2 separate regions of the Homo sapiens genome follow, and region 1 is linked to region 2. Evidence: fine-mapped expression QTL. Tissue or cell type: whole blood. Region 2 holds a variant in brackets; the other region holds the start of a gene. All regions are shown on one strand. Distances are from middle to middle.

Region 1 (9,719 bases), 24 kb after region 2:
TGAAGTCAGCCAATGCTAGAAAAAAAATCGAGATATTTAACATAAAAAAAAAATCCAGGCTGGGCACGGTGGCTCACACTTGTAATCCCAGCACTTTGGGGGGCCGAGATAGGAGGATTGCTTGAGCTCAGGAGTATCAAGACCAGCCTGGGCAACATAGTGAGATGACATCTCTTAAAGGAAAAAAAAAAGATCCAGATTTCTGGCTTTTCTTGAAAAAAATCTAAAGGTCTGATATGCCTGTACCCACATCCCCAACCCCACCAATCAGCCAGAGGTGAGTAAAGGCTGCCTCTTGGGAGGTGGCACCTGTTCTCTGGCTCTCCACCATCTCCACTGCTCCTCCAGGTCTCCCTGACCCTGAGGCCATGAGTGCATCAAATACTTCTCTCCTCTCCTCTCCTCTCATTACATGGCCCTCCTCCCATTTAGAAAGTTTGTCTCCACTGAACTAGATGAGGCCAAGGGATTTTAAACTTTCAACTGTTTTGTCTAACCTTACTTGGTTTTATGTTATTTTTTATTTTTTTAAGGAACACAGACATTGTCACAATTCAACCACAGAGAAGACTTGTCCAGCTGAGGCTTTCAAATTCAATAATTATTTGGAGATATGCTACTAGAAACTTTCAGAGAGGACAAAGAAAAGGTATCATTACAGTGTAAGAAGGCTGGAGTGGATTAGCATTGCTCACAGTTGTAGAGAGAAATACTTGGCTGATATCAAAATACATCGTTGGATGGTAAAGTAGACTATGTTGTTGATATGAATGTGTCAACCTTCACTTCTCCCCCTAAACCCACACACTGAAGGGGTGAGTTTAAGTCTGGGCACAGGATGTCAAAAGTTCTCAGGCATGGAACAAGCCACAGAATGGATTAAAAAATACCCCAAGCGGAAGAAAGCCATACACTATTAGACATTCCATTTTTTTTTTTTTTTTTTTGACACAGAGTCTTGCTCTGTCACCCAGGCTGGAGTGCAGTGGCACAATCTCAGCTCACTGCAACCTCCACCTCCTGGGTTCAAGCGATTCTCCTGCCGCAGCCTCCTGAGTAGCTGGGATTACAGGTGCCTGCCACCACACCTGGCTATTTTTTTTTTTTTTTTTTTTAATGAGACTGAGTTTCACTCTTGTTGCCCAGGCTGGAATGCAATGACGTGATCTTGGCTCACTGCAACCTCTGCCTCCCGGGTTCAAGCAATTCTCCTGCCTCAGTCTCCTGAGTAGCTGATATTACAGGCATGTGCCACCATGCCCAGCTAACTTTTTTGTATTTTTAGTAGAAACGGGGTTTCTCCATGTTGGTCAGGCTGGTCTCAAACTCCTGACCTCAGGTGATCCACCCACCTCAGCCTCCCAAAGTGCTGGGATTACAGACGTGAGCCACTGCGCCTGGCCCTAATTTTTGTATTTTTAGTAGAGACAGGGTTTCACTATGTTGTCCAGGCTGGTCTCGAACTCCTGACCTCAGGTGATCTGCTCACCTCTGCCTCCCAAAGTGCTGGGATTACAGGCATGAGTCACCACACCCAAAGATCTGAGCTAATAATGCATCCGGTTCCCCATATCAAAGGTGCTGGCAACACTCTAGCCTTTAATTAATTACCCTAAACCTAAGTGGGATAGTTATTTGGCAATACATCCATTTTTTTGCCAACTGAAGCAGTCCAGAGCTGTGATGATACCCCACAAAATACTAGGTTTGTAGGTTTCCCCCACCCTCCCATCTTCCTACCCTACATGCCCTACAAAATTCCTGCCAATGAATTTCATAGTGAGTATGTATGTTGTCATTTTGGGATGGTCCCATAAGAGGCCCATCTGGTGAACTCATCCAACCAGACGGTTTTGTTACTGGTGTCAACCTTGAGTTATGATTCAGAATCTTGAGTATACACTCAGATTCGAAATCCCTACGTAGTAAGGTGTAGGACAAAACATCTGTGCCTTTGAGATGCAGGTGCTTGGACTGGTCCTCTTACTAGCTGTGTGATTTGACAAGTCACTTCACATTTAACCACTCTGTAGGCATGAGTTTCCTCATCTGAAAAAAAAAAAAGGCAAACTAGTAAAAGCTGACCCCTGCAAAGTAACTGGCAGATAGAGGGCATCCAATAACATTCCAGATAGCCTCCCTTCTTTTCATAGAATGCTAGAAGCTACAGGTCCTTAGAAGTCAAGCAGATTCATCTCTCATTTGTATAGATGAGGAAATCAAGGCCCTGGGAGGTGGTCTTTCAGGCAAACAGTGGCAGCTCTTGAGATGTGGGCTCTGGTACTTTATTCAACGTTGGTTTTTTTCACATGAGCCAGCCCATGAGAGATTCTGAGAGCAGGTGGGGACAGTAAAAAGGCAGTCCCATAATTTCTAGGAGCCTCAAACTGTAGGCCAAAGGGCTAGGTAAACAGATCTGCCTTGTTTTAAGTTTGATACAGGCCTTACGGCTCTCTGTTGTTTCTCATCCTCTACAACTAACACATCTTGGTTGGTCGCTGGGCCTATGTATACATTCAAGTTTGGTTTATCCAGACTAACTGGCTGAGCTGCCCTGCCAATAGTTTGGATTATTGATCAACCAAAGGTGAGGGACACACACCCCAGCTTTATACAACTCACACACATGCACACACAAAAGCATCCCCAAGATCACATCCTAAGCTTGGTTCTTGGTCTGCAGGGGAATAATTGGCCCTTTTAAATTTCAGCTTGCAAAGTAATAGCTTTACCCCACTGCATTCTTATAGAATAGAGACTCAGAAAACCACTGACATGTACAGAAAGGCTGAGAACCCCTGATTCCCAGAACTACTCTTCAAGGTTGATTTCAGTAGCCTGTTTCACGTTAGGAAAGAACGTATGCTTTCATAGGAACCAGAGTTCTAGATCCTGAAAGTGAAACTTCATGCTCCATATAGCATAACTGTTTCCTTCCCTTTCTCTTGGGAACAACACAATTCTATTATGGTTACATTTTAAAAACAAATTATGGATTACTGACTAATATCAAATGCTCATTTGTGAACTAAAACTCACCTAAAAGCCATTTCTTTTGTTAGCCGCTGCGCGTTTAAGGGAAAGTAAAGGGGTGAGAAAATGGCTCCCCAGAAATCCTATGGGGCATCCCCCACCCCTGCAATATATCTCAAGCATCAAATAGCCACTCTATGTTAACTACCACCAAACCTTTTCCAACCACTAGGTTGTCACCTTTTTCACAACCCTAAGACAACTATGCAAATACTTTATCTAAATTTTGAGAAACTGGGCTGAGTGAATTAGTAAGCACTATATGAGGAGGGGTTAACAGCAATTTATTAAGGTTGCCTGAAACACCCTAGTCCAAACACCGATTCAAACTCTTATTTAAATATGCTATTTTAAACCTGATTTGCAGCAGGGCAGCAGACCAAATTAAAGCACTCATTTTACTGACCTGAGTCCCAAGCCTGAATTCTCTGGTGGATTATTTTTAATTTAAAAATGAGCTCTTGTCCTATAAAATAAGCAGCACCAAGGAGAAATGCAAGACAGCTTAAATGGCCCAAGAGGCAGCGCAAGTTACTTTTACAAAAAAACTGGAAAGTATTAGTGACATTATCTCCACTTCTAATTTCAGAAAATGACTTTACAGTATACTTCTAGGTTATAACGTAGACAAGTATGTCTGTGAAACTGCTCCTGAAGGTTTCCACGTAATAGCTGCAGGTAAACAAATGTTATAATATGACCACACAATGCAATACTATGCAGCCATTTAAAATACAATGAAGTCGACTAGGTTTCAGGCATAGAGAAATATGTGTGATAATATGAATTTAAGAACAGCAAGTTGCAGATGCCATTTTTGGAGAAAAACTTACATCTATGTGTGGGTATTAAAAAACCTCCCTGACATACACTGACATCTATGATTCTATATTTAGCTGCGAGGGTGTATGTATATATAGTTTAAAAAGATACACACTAAACCTAACAATGGTGGGAAAGGAGGGGAGAGATCTTGGTCTTTCATTTTACTTCTTGTCTTGGTGGCTTGCATTTTTCGCAAGGGCATTGAAAACTTTTTACATTAAATAAAAAATGAAGTGATGAGCTTTAAACAACTGTAACAACAGCTCTTGAGTGCCCTTGTTAATTTCTTGATTGACTGTTTTCACCCCACTTAGTACAACAACGCAGCCACAACTCCTCAGTCCTTCCCAGTCTTTGGAAGGCTAGGAGAGAAAAAGGCGTGGCTTGCAGGGTTTTCTTCTAGCTAGAGGAAAACAGGCTGTAGGCGCCCTTTTTTTAGCTACAATCCCGAGAGCTCCCACGTGTCAGGGGTGCGCAGACGGTAGGCGCGGGGTGCAGGACTCCAATTATCAATTCAGCCGAGCCCAGCGCTGGTAAAGGGGGCGTTTAGCTCGCCCGTTTCCTCCCTCCTCAATCCCCACACAGTCAGTTTCTCGGTCCAAGTTTTACTGGTGCGGCCCAGCCCTACCGAGAGTACCCGAATACACGTCTGCAGAGGACGCGGGCATTGGGCCGGGTGAGCTACGATGTTCTAACGATCAGCAAATGCCAATTAATCTGTTAATTGTCTATTAACAATTATTACTCGGTAAATGTCAACCCAGACCTACACCCAAAGTGGGCTTGAGGGAGGGTGGACGAAGTGTAAACATTTTTTCTTTTTTTTTTTTAAATGAGAGATGCCGCCCGCCTCTCCGGGCCTGCGAGTGGGCTGGCGGATACCGGAGTCCCTGAGGTCACCGGCGGAGGTACGTGGGCTGTCCCTGGGCTTACCTTACAGGGAAACAGGACTGCCGAGGCCACCTTCTCCATAGCCAGGTTCCTGATGCTGGGCGTCAGGGCGCCCCTGCACGTCGGGCAGCAGCTCAACTTCTGGCGGCATTGGTTACACACCAGGTGCCCGGCCTGGCACTGCAGAATAGGAGGCAGGACATAGTCAAAGCAGACCGGACACTCGAAGAGCGAGGTCAGCTCGTGGTGCTGCGGGGACACCGGGCCGGCCCCGCCGCCGCCGCCGGGGCCCGAGATCACCGCCGCCGCGGCGGGCACCGCGGACGAGCCGGGGCCCGCAGCCGAGATGGTGGCGGCGGCCGGGGGCGCAGCCGGGGACGGAGTGTGCTGGGGCTGCGGCGGCGGCTGCTTGCTGCAGGGTTTATTAGCGCTGGGGCCGGTGGAGGACGGGCGGCTCATCGCGCTCCGAACCAACCATGGAACTGCGGGCGCCTGCCTGCCGCGGGGCCGCCCGGGTCAAGGCGGTGCGCGCCCCGCGGGCAGCGAGCTCCGAGGCAACGCCACGGCGCCCAGCCCAGGTCCGGGCGGCGGAGACGCTCGGCGCCCGGCAGGCGGAGGGCTGGACCGCGCTGATGCACTCCGCAGCCCCCGGCGTTCCGAGCACGCCTCCGCGTCGGACCCCGCGCGGTGCCCTCCTCCCGGCGGCGTCCCGGGCCCCGAACCCCAGCGGTGCGCAGAGCCCTGGCCCACCCGCTTCTGGAACAGCCGCTGACGCAAGCCCCGGGGGCGCGCGCGGACGTGACGCCTGGACACGTGTGCGGCCGCCCAGGCGCGCGGGGACTGGCAGAGCCACCCTGCGCCGGGGCGCTGGCTCCGCCCGGCTCCAGCTGGCAGCGCAGGGGGCCGCCTAGCGCCGGCGCTTCCTGCTCGGGCTGCGGGCCGGGCCTGCGCCAGTGAGCATGCCTGGCTCGCTGCAGCCCCGCGGGGTTGTCTTTTCTGGGTTGAGGAGGGGGGCTACTCTCGGGGAAGCGTCGCCGAAGTCCTCTGGCCACACCCCGGGGTGCCTGGCTGACGCGTCCCTCAGCTCAAACGAGAAAGGCAACTTCAGGCGGGGCGGGAGCGTGGACGGTGGGTGGGACCGGACGCGGGCGGGCAGGGGCGGGGCGCGGGCGCCCCTGCACTAGTCGGAAAAAACCGAGAGGTTTCTCTTCTCAGGGCTGAGTCACCAGCACGCAGGAGAAGAGGGCGAAGCGGCCACCCGCGTTCTGTGTTCGGAGTCAGGACGAGAAGCATTGGGTGGGAGCAGGGCGAGGGGCTCGAGTTGGGTCTGCAGCGGGCACAGGACCTAGTTTTGTACAGTTAACGGTGGGGTTGAGTAAAGAGGGGGGCGGTGGGGAGGATGTAAGCTCCCTTTATTCCTTTCCCAGCGGACCAGGAGGAAGCTTCGTTGAATTGAGCGCCCCTGGCTCGTATAGCAGGCCGAGGAGGGAGCTCATGGGCAGCGTTGGCTAAGAGTTCGAGATCATCTAGAAATGTCAGAAACGTAGGTTGGGTCGTGAGGTCTCTGAAGACAGTGGGTGAAACTCCAGTGTAAGGCGCTGCGTCCGCTTGGTAGAGAGCCGGCCGAAGTCCGAGTCTTTGTTGCGAGGCGTAGGGCCACCCTGCGCGCCCAGCAGAAGCGCTAGAGGGCACGGTTGCCCGGGGTGAACCGCATGTCCAAATGTAACTGTGTGCTCCGAGTTAAAATTGTTTTTCTGCAGACTTTGCTTGAGCCAACGATTCCGGAATTGGGGAAAGGGTTACCTTAGGTAGAAATCGGAAATTTATAGGAGACACAGAGGTAAGGACCAACTGTTAGGACTGAGTGAAAAATGGTTCCCTCCAACTGTAAAAGTGGAAAAAAAAATACCTATCTTATAGGTGGGGCAGTGAGGAGTAAATGAGTTTAATATATTTCAAGCTTTTAAAACAACCTCGCCCATCATAAGCACTGTTTAAACATTAGCTCTTATCTTTTAAAAATATTAGTGGATGTTTAAAATGAATGAATACAATTTGTCCAAGAAATATGGCGTAAGAGCCCAGAAGAAATAAAGTTTAATCTTACAAAGGGCTTCTGTAGAAAGAATACATGCATGGAATTGATGGAATTTGGTATAAATCTTGAAAAAACTTAATAGGTGTATTCAATCGTTCAGTAAATGTTTCCTGAGCATTTATCATGTGTCAGCTACTGTTGGAGCTCTGAGAATGGTTCTCATGCAGTTTACATTCTAGTAAGAGAGCAAGGCCCAATAACCAAGCACTCGTGGGAGAAGAAGGATTTCAGATACCACGGGGTGGGCAGGCATTATAGCAGGAGCTAAAAAGCACAGAGTGAAAGCATGTATTCTGGGATTGCATTGGGACTTGGAGGGGATATAACGGGAGTGTAGGGGTGTGGCGTTAGCACAAGGGGAGCCTCAACTGGCTTAATAAGACATTTACCTCAATGATAGGGGTAAACCACTGTAGGGTTTTGTTTGTTTTTTTAAGAACACACAACAACACTAGGTTTTGTAGGTTTTTGGAAGCTCTTTAGTAACATGGCTGAACCTGAGTTTTTGGATAGGTAGGGAGCATAAAATAATAACTAATGTTAATTGAGTGCCCACTGTATGTTGGGCATGGATAGTTTTAAGTATTTATCATAACTCTCTGTGATGAATACTACTGTTATCTCCATTTTACAGTTGAGGAAACCGAGACATAGGTTACTTTGCTCAAGATCACACAGCTGAGAATGTGGGAACACGCTAGGAGCCCTTCTTAACTACTAGTCTGTATGCCTCTAAATTATGCCTGATTCCTACTTACAGTCTTGTTAAACAGTTAAGATTAGCACACTCAACAGAGTCAGAAAACAGTTGTTCAGCCTATAATAAAGCACTAAATTTTGTGGGCAAACTTTACATAAACTCTTTCCTTAGCTGGTCTAGAGAGAAAAATTAAATCATGTTCTATTTATTTCATTTTCACCTTTTTATGACACAAAATATAAGTGATAACACAAAAATCACCTACTGTTTTACTGTTATTGGAGGAAATGTAATATTTTTCATTCTTAATTTAAAATCAAAGCATTTGGAATTTATTAATGGAACACATTTTCTTTCCTTCCACTTCTAGCCTCTCTGTGTGATGACCTCCATCCCCACGGCTTCTTACTAGCTCTCATTAGGAGACTGGAGTCCTCACCCTTGCCCCATTGACACGAGCTTTAAGTGTTCCAGCTAGATAGGCCCTGGTCATTCAGAAAACAATTTGGTTTGGGAGGTGTTGAAAGAAATAACAGGAAAAGCAATTCTCTGCAGAGAGAATTTGGTTTATTTTTCTAAAAATACAGCGAACCCATCCACTCTTACCCTGGCAGATGCCTCCCCTGGTATAGAGAAATTTCTTCTTTCTTCCTCCTTCACATCATTGCACACCTGATTAAGTCAACCAGGGTAATTAAAATACAAAAGCAAAACAAAAAAACTCTGGGCAGTTGCTGAAGGTAGGCAGGGGGAGAGTGGATAGGTCTGCTATGTGAGCCACATCAATGACCAGGCTGGTCTTCCCAGTCGCCTTTCTTCTTCCTCCTTCCTTGGTGACTTTTGAAACAAAGAAAGGTGACCTTTGCATACCGGGCACTATGAGCTAGAGCCTCCTCTTCCAGCGGGCAGTCCGCTCAGAGGTCGAATTTAGCGTGTACTCAAAATGTGTGCTGAGTTGAGTTGTTGGGAGGTTTATTTACCCTTTGGAGTGTCGCTGCTGCTTCTTGGCCTGTTTAGTGAGTGACTTTGTGGTCTGGGGGAGCAGGGTCCAGCCTTTTGTTATCTCCTGATTCATGACTCATTTACCACATCTACTGTATGAGAGGTTGGTCTCATTCGCCCACCTACTGAGTCCCAGATTGCATATGTCAAGCAGGACACCTCTCCTTAACCCATCTGCTCTATGCTAAGCTTGAAAGACTAGGGGTGTACTGAGTAGCCTTTTCTTTCCTTAAAATAGCAGGGTGAGTCTTAAAAAAAACACCTCACAGGTGAGTTCCTAATTTCACTAAACTGCTGAGCACAGTGAGAAATGCTCCAGCTAGGCAGACAAGCTCTTGCCCTTTTTTCTGTAACTTACAAATTGTGTGGTTTTGCAAATCAGGCAACTTCTGCCATCAGGCAAATGTGCATTTGCAGAGCAAATTGTGGTTGGCTTTTTAGAGATGACTCAGGTATGCATTGGAGCTTGCTGCATGGAAATTCCTCATCAGGGGAAGCTTGTGGGAAATCTGGAGGTGATGTAAGGCCCCCTGGTAATTATAGTAGGAACTTTTAACTTCATCTGTTTCTGGGGTAATTTCCAAATGCTCAAACTTCTTTTGAATAATTGTAGGTCTCTTAATTCAAATCTTTTTTTTTTTTTTTGAGACAGGGTCTCACTCTGTCACCTAGGCTTAATGCAGTGGCTGGATCATGGCTGACTGCAGCCTCAACCTCCCAGGCTCAAAGGATCCTCCTGAGTAGCTGGGACTACAGGCACGTGCCATCACGCCCTGCTAGTTTTTTAGTTTTTGTAGAGAAGAGGTCTCACTGTGTTGCCGAGGCTGGCCTCAAACTCCTATACTCAAGTACTCCTAATTCAAGCATTTTTTTGAACAACCATCATGGACTTAGCACTGTGTACTAAGAGCAGTTCTATGTATTTGCATTATTTTTGTATCCACACTTAGCTAATTAGTGCTCACCCTGTACCAGGGAGTGTTCCAAGTACTTTACATATTTTAATTCTCTTAATTCTCACAATGTCTTTTATAGGGTAGATCTTTATAGATGACAAAACAGGTACAGAGAGGCCAAGAGAGTTGTAGGAAGTCATCATTAAGAAGGCTCCCAGGGATCCCTCCTCCTGGTGTCGCCCAATATGTAACACCTTTCCTGTGAATGAGGGCT
Region 2 (10,801 bases):
CTGGGCTCCCTGGGGAGGGATTAGGACCTGGCAGGGTGGGCGGCAGTGGCTGCTCCCTCCACCCCTAGGGGCCTCTTGCTATCAAGGCTTTTCCTTTGCTAGTGTGCTGACTTTCCAGGGCTGTGTGACTCTGGTGCACACCACTGACTGTCTTTGACTCTCTCAAGAGAATCTGACTGGTGGCTGCTCAGCCAATGAACCGCTGGCCTGGGTAAGGTCTTATCAGCTGTGGCCTGCATTACAAGTTTGTGGGTGTGTGAATTAGTGGGGGGTTTGCATGGGGTGTTCCAGGAACTATGGGCAGGGCAAATTCTCTAGAAGAAGTAGTTTTTATTGTGGACAGGGTTCGTCCTGAAATTTAGCTAGTATGAGGATGGGTTAAAGGATAGATTAGAATTAGGGACCAGACAAGACACTGCTGAACTTTGATATTCACTCGGCACGTTCTACGTGTCTGACCTTGTGTGGGTGTCAGGAACGCGGGAACAAAGGAAGTGTGAGAGAAGAATAGCCCTGAGAAGTGGATGGGAGGTGGACAAGGCTGGACTTAGGCATTGAGTGGTTTGGTCTTGATCCAGGAGAGGCTGATCTCTTGGCACATCCTCCTAACTACCTCAGCCTTGCAAAAACCTACCCAACACCCAAGGCCCAATGCACGCGCTGCTTTCTCCCGGAAGCCTTTTCCAATCCTCTTTTGAACTCCATAGCAATTTGTACGTCCTTGTCTTAACTTGCTTTGCAAACATAGTTGATGTAGTTGTGGTTGCATATTTCATGCTACTGTAAGTTGCCTCTTTGTTTGATGCTTTCAGACTTCTGCTAGACTGTAAAGTCCATATCTGAGTCACTTTTGCAGGCAGCAGGGCTGTTGGAAGGGCTACATTCCTGAGTGTAAATCCCATTTTCACTGCTTACAAGCTGTGTGACTTTGGGCAAGTTACTTAGCCTCTCTGAGCCCCCACCTTCTTGTTTGTTAATGGGAGTGATAATACCCACCTCAAGGTGTTTTGTTTTGAAAATTAAACCATATCAAGGATATAAAGTACAGGACCAAGCACAGGGCAGTTGATTGGTGTGTATTGAATTGAGGAGGAATAACTCGGATCTTGAGGGATGAGCAGCATTAGCATAGTGGGCGAGATAAGGGAAAGGGAAGGGCATGCTCCAAGCTGTTCTCTTCAGTCCCTCCAGGGGAGGGGGCAGCGTGCGGGGCCACACTCTGGACAGGGCAGCTACTCCTCACATTGTCAGCAGAAGCCACTGCAGTTCTAGGACTCAGGCAGCCACACTCTTGTCCAGTGTAATGGAAACTGCCTTCTGAGCTGCATGCACCCTTACTTGATATCAATGTACCAGGGACTCGGATCTGTAACTAGAACAGCACTTACAGCTTGTCTCTCAGGGAAATGGTGTTGGATGGTCCTCAGGAATATTTCTTCCAGGTTTTCATGGAACCTAGAAAAACACCACAGCTTGCTAAGGTGTAAACCTCTCAGATGCCTGGGATGTTCTAGACTGAGCTGCAGCCAGTGCCTTTCTCCTGTTCAGGGCTGGATATGCACAGACGCCCTCACCAGGGCCTTCTAAACATAATTTGCTTCAACCCTTGCTTGTTGGCACAATTTTTTTCCCACCTCTCTCTATTTCAATAATGGCTGCTTCCTGACCATCTCTACTGCATAAGTAAGTAATCTGCCCTGGAAACTTGTCTTTCTGATTACTTTGCCCCCGCTGTGATTGCCTCCTTCTCCACATCATCCATTTCGCTCTCTCTTTTGGATCCTTCCCATTGGCACAGTGCCATGCTCTAGTGGCTCCAATTTTTAAAACACAAAAAAATCTTTCATTGATCCCACTATTCTCCTGCAGCAACTGCTTCATTTCTCTACGTCTTCTCTGCGGAACTTCTTAAAAGCCTTGTCTATAGCAACTTGTCTATAGCTCTATAGCTATAGCTCCTGCCTCCTCTCCTCACCCATGCCCTGTTCTCTCCCTCACCTGCTCTCCTCTGGGCTTCTGTCTTCTCCACTCCATGAGACTGCTCTTGACATCTTGCCATGACCTCGATTGTCTTCTCAGTGGCTAACTCCTCTGTTCTACTTGAGCCAGATTTTTTTCCTGGGGTTCTGTGATGCCGTACTGTCTAGGAGTTCCCCTCATCTTGATGGCCACTTCTTCTATCCACCCTCATTTCCAGGCTCTGGCTCCTCATGTGACCTCTAAAAGGTTGGCAGTCCCAGGAGATAGGCCTGAGTCCCACCCTCTTTTCTGCCTGTATGCACCTCCCTCCATTGCCCAAACCCCGGGGTCTTCTCACTTCCACCCCACAGCTTAAACACCATACATATAGTGATGGTGCACACATTTTGGTATTTCCATCCTGGCCTTTCCTCAGAGCTCCAAGCTCATACAAACAACTGTCTGGTTGATGTCTTCAGCCATGTGTCTCTCTAGATTTCTGCCCTATGCTGGCTCCTTCACTAGTCTCTGCCCCAATACATGGAACTTCTTACCCATTTACTCAGGATGAGAGCCTAGGAGTGATCATCCTTGATTCTCTCTTTTCCTTATTCCTATAATCATCACCCCTCTCCCACCCATCCAACTTTTTAGCAACTCCTGTTAACTCTACCTTGAAAACATAGCCCAAATATGCCCATTTCTGTTAATCTCTACCTTTGCTCACTCTGTCCAAGCCATAATTATCTTTCACTGGGTGAAATGCAATAGCTTCCAAAATGCTTCCATTCCTGCCCTTTATAATCATTGTTTTTGTTGTTTTGTTTTGTTTTAATTGAACAGCTACAGCTCTTTTTAAAAACCCGAATCCCATCATCCATGCTCCTTGAAACTTTCCAGTGGCCTCCCATTGTACCTGGAAAGAAAGCCAGACCCCTAGCTGGCCTCACAGGGCAAGGCTCTAGCTCCTTACCTGCCTCACCTCAAAGCATTTTCCCTGCTGGTTCTGCCTCAGGCCTCTGCACTTGCTGTTCCTTTCTTGCTGCAATGCTTCCCTCCAGGTGGTTTTTACATTCACTTGCATTCCTCAGCCTTCCCTGGTTATTCAATCTACAGTATTGGCAGGTGACATCACTTGTCTCAGCGGCTGTATGAGAAATACAAGAGAAAATGAGGCAGTGAGGTTGGACTGGGTCAGAGGTTCTCAACCCTGACTGTGTGCTGGTCCCTTCTGGGAAGCTTTAAAAAGCACACAGAAGCTCAGCCTTACTGCCAAGAATTCTAACTTAGGTCCTGGCATTCTTTAAAGTTCCCCACATGATTCCAAAGGACGTGTGGGGTGATAACCTTTGATCCAACCAGTGCTTCCCAAACTTGAACATGCATCCACATCACCTGCATACTGTGTTAAAATGCGGATTCTGGTCAGGAGGTCTGGGGTGGAGGCTGAGATGCTGCATTTCTGACAAGTTCCCAGGTGATGCTGATGCCGCTGGTGCACGGACCACACTTTAACTAGTGAGGGTCTGAACGATTTCTAGGTCTCCATCCCCTTCTAGCATGCCATGACAGTGGGGAAGGCAGTTCCAAAGCACAGGTGGTATGTTCTGTATTCACCAAGCATCCTGCACCCCTCCATCTTGTTCATCTTTATCTGTTACAAGTAAGCAATATTTCTGCTGATGGTCAAAATATGTGAAAGCCAAATAAGAATAATGATGGATCACGTGATATGGTGAAGGGGCATGGACTCCACGATGGGTTCATATTCCAATTCTGTTTCTTACCAGCTGTGTGAGTGTAGGCAAATTACTTAATCTCTCTGAGCCTTCATTTCCTCGACTCCAAAATGGGGATAATAAACACTGCTTATTTTATTGAGAGGATTAAATGGGTTAATACAGACAAAGCACTTTGCACACGATAGGTACCTAATGGATGGCAACTGCTGTGATCTTGGTGTACTTTGCAAATTGATCTAATCTTGTAATCCAATTGCTGCAGGTCACAGGAACCTTGATCTGTGCTTGCTGCAAGGATCATCAAACATAGAGCGGAGTCGGCCTTTGATCTGAATGTCAGGTGACTCCATGACATAAGAAATTTCAAGGCACAGAAACTTCAAACCAGCCTTAGTGACCTTGCCTGGAGGATGACAGGGGCAGAGAAACCCTTTGTTTCTTCCCTTCTCTGGATTGTTAGATTATCTCCCCATCTCTGTTCCCTGCCTACTTGCGTAATTTCCCCAGGGACTTTTGGTACAAAACCAGAAAACCTTAACTCTTAAAGTGTTGACTTCAATGCTGCTCTCACACTAGCCTGTTAGTAGTTATTTATTCATTCAGATATTAATTGGGTGCCTAGGTGCCAGGGACTTCATTGTCTCTATTACCCTGCAGGTTGTCAAGGGGAGGCAGGCGCTGAACAATAAAAAAAAATATGTAATCACAATTGTGGTGCCATGAAGGAAAAGAAATAGGGTGCACCGCAAGAGAATATTGAAGAGCTGTGATGCCAATGATTTTCATGTCAAAAGAGCCTCTGCCTATGTGTAGAATACATTGGAGCAGGCAGGAAGAAGGAGGACAAACAGTTAGGAGCCCCAACAGTGGTCCTGGCCCAGATGGTGGCAATGGAAATGGGGAATCAAGACTGGGAGCCACTTCCCTTAGTCATGGTAAAATGTTGGCTTGTACTTTAAGCTGTTTTGTAATTTTTTCCCTTTTACTCAATACAGAAGACACCATGTCATCATCACAGAAAATTCTAATCAGCAGTGTGGTTTGGGGCCAGTGTGTTTCCCTCTGTAGGTCTTACTTGTTTATTCTGTAAAATGGTAGTGGTGGTGGGTGTTGGTGTCAATGGGATCAAGGTTCTTTCTGCTTGTCATTTGAAGACTCCAAGACACATTAACGGTATTCACAAATAAGAGATTTTAAGCTTCAAATTAGAAGAAGGTTTAACAATATGGGGAATTAGATTTCTCCCTTTAAGCACTCTTGCCTCCCTTTCACAGGTCAGTGAAATTATAATCATACTTTCAAGCACAGCCTGCATGAATCAGGAAGGTTCAAGGCCACAGGCCTCTCAAGCCAGAGCCACAAA[G/A]CAAAACTGGTCTCTCTACCCAGGCACCACCCCTAGCTCTAAACCATGGGAATCTGAGAGGTAGCTGGAGCATGACTCACCTGCCAACACTGATAGACAGACACATGCTGGGCCACAGTGATACCAGAACCACCTCGTACAAAGGCTGGCAGGAATGATTTACATACCTCAACCTAACATTGAATAGCTTGATTGTCTCACAGAAATTAGTACTAAAGTAAAAACGTTTAGAAAATAAACCTTCAAATGTTGCAGATTAGGAAACTTAAGACCAGAGATGTCAACTGACCAAGTTAAGGTCACATTGCTGGCTATTTGGCAAGCCCCAAGAACCTGAATGAAGTTAGATACAAGGAGAATTTCTTCAGGAAAATTACTTTGGGTGGTATTGTAAAGGAGTTGCTTGATGCTGCTAAAAAAGACACTCAGCCATTAGTTTGGATGTGTCAGTTGAGGCCGAGGTTCTAGTTGGCAGAGTTCCAAGATAGTTGATGCTTCGGTGCCTCTTCTCCGAAGTATTTCCCATAATCCCCTGGACAGTTCCCTCTAAGAACTCCACTGTCTCAATCCTTTAAGTCTTCTGGATTCAGGGAAACCAAGACCAGTTCCTCCTTACAAGAACGCTGGGAACCCCTAATCTCAAGGTTGGTTGGTTTTTTGAAAAAAATTAAAAACGTAGAACAATGCAATTAATAATATACCATATACCCAGGTTCTAGGCACCCAGAATTAATGACTGTTAACATTTTCTCCCAAGGTATTTTGAGAACCCTTTTTTCTTTAGAATGACTCATGCGTCATAAGACACAGGCTTAATCTACCATCGTTTAATCGCCAGATTACCAAATTAGAATATTGAACTAGGACAGGAAAGATAAAATATTCTTATTTTATTTTTTAAAATATGGTACTTAAGTGGACCACGTGATGAGTTTTGACAAATGCCTATCATTACTTTTCTTTTTTTTTCTCACTTTTTTTAAAAGCAACAAGTCAAGGAATATACTCATCATGTTTTAAATTGCATTTGCAATTGGAACTGCATAAAAAGGCATTTTAATTTACATAATCTTTTTCTGCTGTTTTCACTTCCTGTTAAAACGGAATAACCTGGGGATTTTTATTTTCTGGTAGAAAATGCACAGTTTCAAGAAAGTCAAGAGTAAAGGTTAAGTTTACAGATTTCCAGTGACAGAGATGAAAGGGAACTACGTAACTCTGGAAAATAAAAGTTCAGAGTTGCGTTGCTTACAACTTTTTCATTTGTTAAGTTCTAGGAGCAAGTTTGAATGGGGAATCAAGAAGCCTGAATTATAGAACCAGTGCTGCCAGTAATGCACTGTGTGGCTGCTGGCCCATCACTTTACCTTTTTGGGCTAAAACTCTTTTTGTGCTTTTGGAATAACTTGTGTCCACTTTCTCCTTCTTTATGTCTTTTGTTTATAGGTTTGCGTTTTATGCACTGTTAACCAATCAGTCCTGATTCCTCTACCACACGTAGTAAGAGGGTAAGCCGTGGACATGAAGTGATGCTGCCAAGCTTGGCTAGTGTATGCACACTGCACCTTGCATGGGTGCCGTGAGGGCCCTGGAGGCCATATCTGGACTGGCTCTGGTCCTGAGGGTCAGAGTTCATCTGCTCCTGGATCCTAGTTTCACCTTCATAGGTTCCTCTGTATATGGACTTGAAATGTGACTTTCTTAGTGATAAGAGTTGTGGTTTTTATTCATTCACCACAGATGTTGTAAACCCCTACTTTTGTGTAGGGCACCGTTTTTCACTTTTACAGAAGAGGTTACTTTAGCAATTCTTTAAATGTCAGAGCCCTGTGCTGGCTAAAAACTCAACGCTGTATCTCACTTAAAAAACAAAATCAACTCCAAAGCCATCACCTCCATTTGGTAGTATGCTAATGAAATTGGGACACTGAGGGCTGGGTGTGGTGGCTCATGCCTTAATCCCAGCACTTTGGGAGGCCGAGGCAAGTGGATCACTTGAGGTCAGGAGTTCGAGACCAGTCTGGCCTCATCTCTACTAAAAATACAAAGATTAGCTGGGTGTGGTGGCATAGGCCTCTAGTCCCACTTACTTGGGAGGCTGAGGCAGGAGAATTGTTTGAACCTAGAGGCAGAGATTGCAGTGAGTGCCATTGCACTCCAGCCTCTGTCTCAAAAAAAAAAAAAAAAAAAAAGAAAGAAATTGGGACACTGAGGTAAGCAGCCTTCAATCCTTGCTGAGCATTTGGCCCTAATCCTCTAAATTCTTTTGAGAGTTTAGGGTTGGGACTGAGGGAGTGGGTCAGCTTGGATCAACGCCAGCACTCTGGATGTCAGCAGTGGCCAAGCGTCTTCCTTCTGACTCTGTAAAGCTGGAGCAATCCTCTTATTGCACAGGTACTGGCACTGTCAGATAGAAACGACAGCCCTGGGAGGAGACCTGCAGCACTGACAGTCAGTGGTTCAGACACATGAGCCCGGACCCCAGTGCTGTCATGGACCCGTGCCATGACCTTGGCCCAATGACTGTTTCCACAGTGGAAACAAACAGTGAAAGTTCCAACCCCAGATGTAGTGACGAAGGTTCATTGCACTTGCACACAGTAGATGCTCAATAAATACCCATTACTCAATTAGGGAAATGAAGCACAATATCCATTTTTGGAAAATATTTATTAAAAAACTAGTGAATGTGGCAGAAAAACAAAACCAACACACAGCTTTAAATAGCAAGCATATGACACACCGGTTATAAAGCTTTTCCAACTCTACTGATTTAGTCTTTCACACCAGCTACTGTTGAGGAGGGCTTCCGAGGGAAGCCACGTGTAAACGGGTCATCTGTACTAGTGGTGAGCAAAACTAATTACATGAGAACTATCAATGGCCATATGACTTGCTTTCCTAGGCAATCCACCCAAAACATAGGTGAGTGGCCAAATCTCAGGCGTGCGTTCATGTGGATCTATAGTTCTAGTTTTAATTTGAGGGTTGGGGGAAGTTAGGGGATGAAACAGTAGAAAGACAAACAGTATCGGCAGAGGGCAACCTTAAAGCACCTTTAAAATCTGGACCCTTTCCCACAATTTAACCCAGTAATTCTCAAACATTACTGTTGAAAAGAATCACCTGATGAGACTGTTAAATTGGCAGGCTCCCTAAATCTGCAATTTTAAGATAAGCACTCCGGGTGATTCAGTGTCTATTAGCCAGCCATCCAATTTCAGAAACACTGTTTAAAATGCATTAAAACAATTCCTACCTCCCACAAACAAAAGTAAAGGAATCTGCTGACAGTCACTGTGCTTTTGTCAATGTCAAGGGACCAATATGGGAAGGCAGGCAGGAAGGGGCCTCCCATTCCTAACACACTGATCTATAGAAGCCCTGTGCAACAGCCTGTCAAGTGTTGTTTAGGGAGTAAATACAATTCAATAAGAGTTGTTTTAGATCACAGAACAGCATCCAAATCACCAACAGGCCAACCCCATTCATCCCAGGTTAATGAACTTTGTTGGGTCGAAGCCAGATGGGACACTGCTGTTCAAACAAAACACGGGTAATTGTGGGTCCTGACTTGTGAAGACATATGGAATAAAACATCTATAAAAACCTTTATTAAACATAGAGCACTATGCCCAAATAATTTTGAAGGTTTACGAAAGTCACATCATGGACAACATGTAGAAATAGTAACATTGATTCCAAGGTTCCCATTATCTGCAAAAAGATGTGCTATGGCTGTGTCGAAAACAAGGCAGTCGCTGTTCATGATGGCCGCAGCCACACCGTCATGAATCGAACGGGGCGTGGCCTCCCAGGTCAATCTCCGCCGGTTCCCATTCAACTCCAGTCTGTAGGCAAAGTTCTCGGCTTGCTTGCGGGTGCCAATGAGCAGGACGATGGCAAAAAACTGCTGGTGGCCTTCGTACTTCTCTTGTTTCTCCAGCACCAGCATGAAGTGATGGCCAAAACATGACTGCATCATCACCCAGTCGACAGCCCCTGGCAAGTTAATGTCTGTAGCTAGAAAGACGATGTCTTCTCCCTGAAGGGTGGTAATGCTCTTGTGGGCGTGCATGAGATGGGACATCACAGCTTCCAGGGACCCCTGCCACTTGCAGGAAGCACCAGGACATGGGCAGGAGTAGGGACGGTATTCACATATGTCTTCATGTTCTGGTTTCTCCGTATGGTGCAGGGTCAGGGAACAGCCCGTGGTGGCATACTGCAAAGAAAGAAATGCATTGAGCCATTGGGCCTTCTCAAAACTTCTATTGCTTCAACCCTCTATGAGTACTTAACTACTCCATTTTCCTGGGCTTAAACTGTGTTCTTAACTACTTTTGCTCAAAGCAAGTGAAATATTCAAGACTAAAAGTCTCCGTCTCTATTCATCATCAATGCTGTCATGCATAAAATGAAGGGTATTTCCTGAACCAGAAATACGCTGTTTTCCATGCCCCCTGTTCCGCTGTCAAAGGGATCAGAACTAAAGTTCTCTTACTGTGCACATCTCAAAATTGTTGAGCAAGCCCTATAAAAGCTGGTCTTCCCCATATTTTCTGTGAAGCTGTTTTTTAAAGAATTCAATTGCTTGGGTGGTGGGGATGGGGTTGGGCAAGGAATATTATATTATCCCAAGATTAGTTTTCACATATAGACAATATTAACAACAGTATAATTCTGTCGTCCCCCTCCACTGCTTTCTGGCTCAAACTGGTGACTGGCAGGCAGGCCGTGGGGAAGGCTGCCCTTTGGTTCCTTGCTCTTTGCTGCTGGCATCACCAGGCTAGGGCAGCGGAGGCCTGGAGACCCCTTCATACAGCTAGAAATATTACCCCACTGCATCCTTTTGACCTTCCCTCTGGGGGGCTTTGCCCATATTTTTTGGGTGGAAGGAAATCACATCCAAGAGCTACTTAACTAACTCAGAAGACTACTGGTCAGTCTGGTTCTGGCCAGTAGAGGTTAACATGAGAAGGGCCTAACCCTCCTCTCAAAGCTTGCTGACCCCCAACACTTCCTCAGATTCAAGAGCACATCATTTCATGGTCAGGTATGTCAGGTCCTCACAACAGGCCCGGGAGGAAGCAGAACTAGACAAGTTTGCTGACATGATCAGTCTGCCCCTCAGACACTGCCTTAATAGGGTAGGAGAACAAAATCATTTTCTCCCTTGCACTTGGGATGACATTCCTAATGGATAAATCATACCTGCCGTGGCAAAAGACCACACCAAGAGGAACTGAACTTCTACTCCAGACTCTCACAAGGATGACAGTGTTAATTCCTAGATACCAGATGGAGATCAGCCCACAAGTAGACACCTGCCCTGAGTACTAAGCTGTTCTGTAAAGAATTAAGAAACCTGAATCACCTTTTCAGGTGAAACTAGGTGTCAGCCTTAGACCCCTGGAGCACAGAATGGCAGGGGAACTGTCTGGCTAACTACACTTGGATTCCCCTGCTCCACTGAGACATGAAGGCACCAAATAAGGGCAAGGCCAGGTCATTTTTCTAAGATGCTATGTCCAGTTGCTAAAAAAAAAAAAAAGCACCACTGCTGTTTTTGCTTCTCTCTACCCTGCTTTATAGAATAATCCCCCTTTTAAACTTGAAGTCGGTCAAATTCTAACCTTCATAGATGAATTTATCACTAGCAACAAGCAGATGGTATGCACTATGTGACTTCTCCATACAAGACGCTAAGTTACAGTCACTCAGAGGATTCCGAAGC

What was found. PIP is the estimated chance that this variant, and not a neighbour inherited with it, causes the effect.
Region 1: SIAH2 starts here. The variant in region 2 is fine-mapped to the expression of SIAH2 in whole blood (TOPMed, PIP above 0.99).

The regions. Positions count from the first base shown.
Region 1 is chr3:150,757,642-150,767,360 of GRCh38, forward strand. It overlaps SIAH2 (siah E3 ubiquitin protein ligase 2), which reads right to left and starts at 5,528. Exons shown (of 2, transcript NM_005067.7): 1 at 4,792-5,528. The coding sequence starts at 5,208. SIAH2-AS1 (SIAH2 and CLRN1 antisense RNA 1) reads left to right here and starts at 4,296. Exons shown (of 3, transcript NR_187306.1): 1 at 4,296-4,339; 2 at 4,698-4,766. RefSeq lists enhancers at 1,789-1,848, 3,083-3,182, 4,999-5,945, 6,464-6,523 and a silencer at 5,054-5,953.
Region 2 is chr3:150,733,410-150,744,210 of GRCh38, forward strand. LOC101928105 (a long non-coding RNA gene) reads right to left here and starts at 5,576. Exons shown (of 3, transcript NR_121657.1): 1 at 5,442-5,576; 2 at 2,933-3,106; 3 at 1,062-1,455. SIAH2 (siah E3 ubiquitin protein ligase 2) reads right to left here. Exons shown (of 2, transcript NM_005067.7): 2 at 7,716-9,289. The coding sequence ends at 8,732. RefSeq lists a cis regulatory region at 1-588 and a silencer at 7,458-7,537. The variant G/A (reference allele first, on the strand shown) is at 5,065.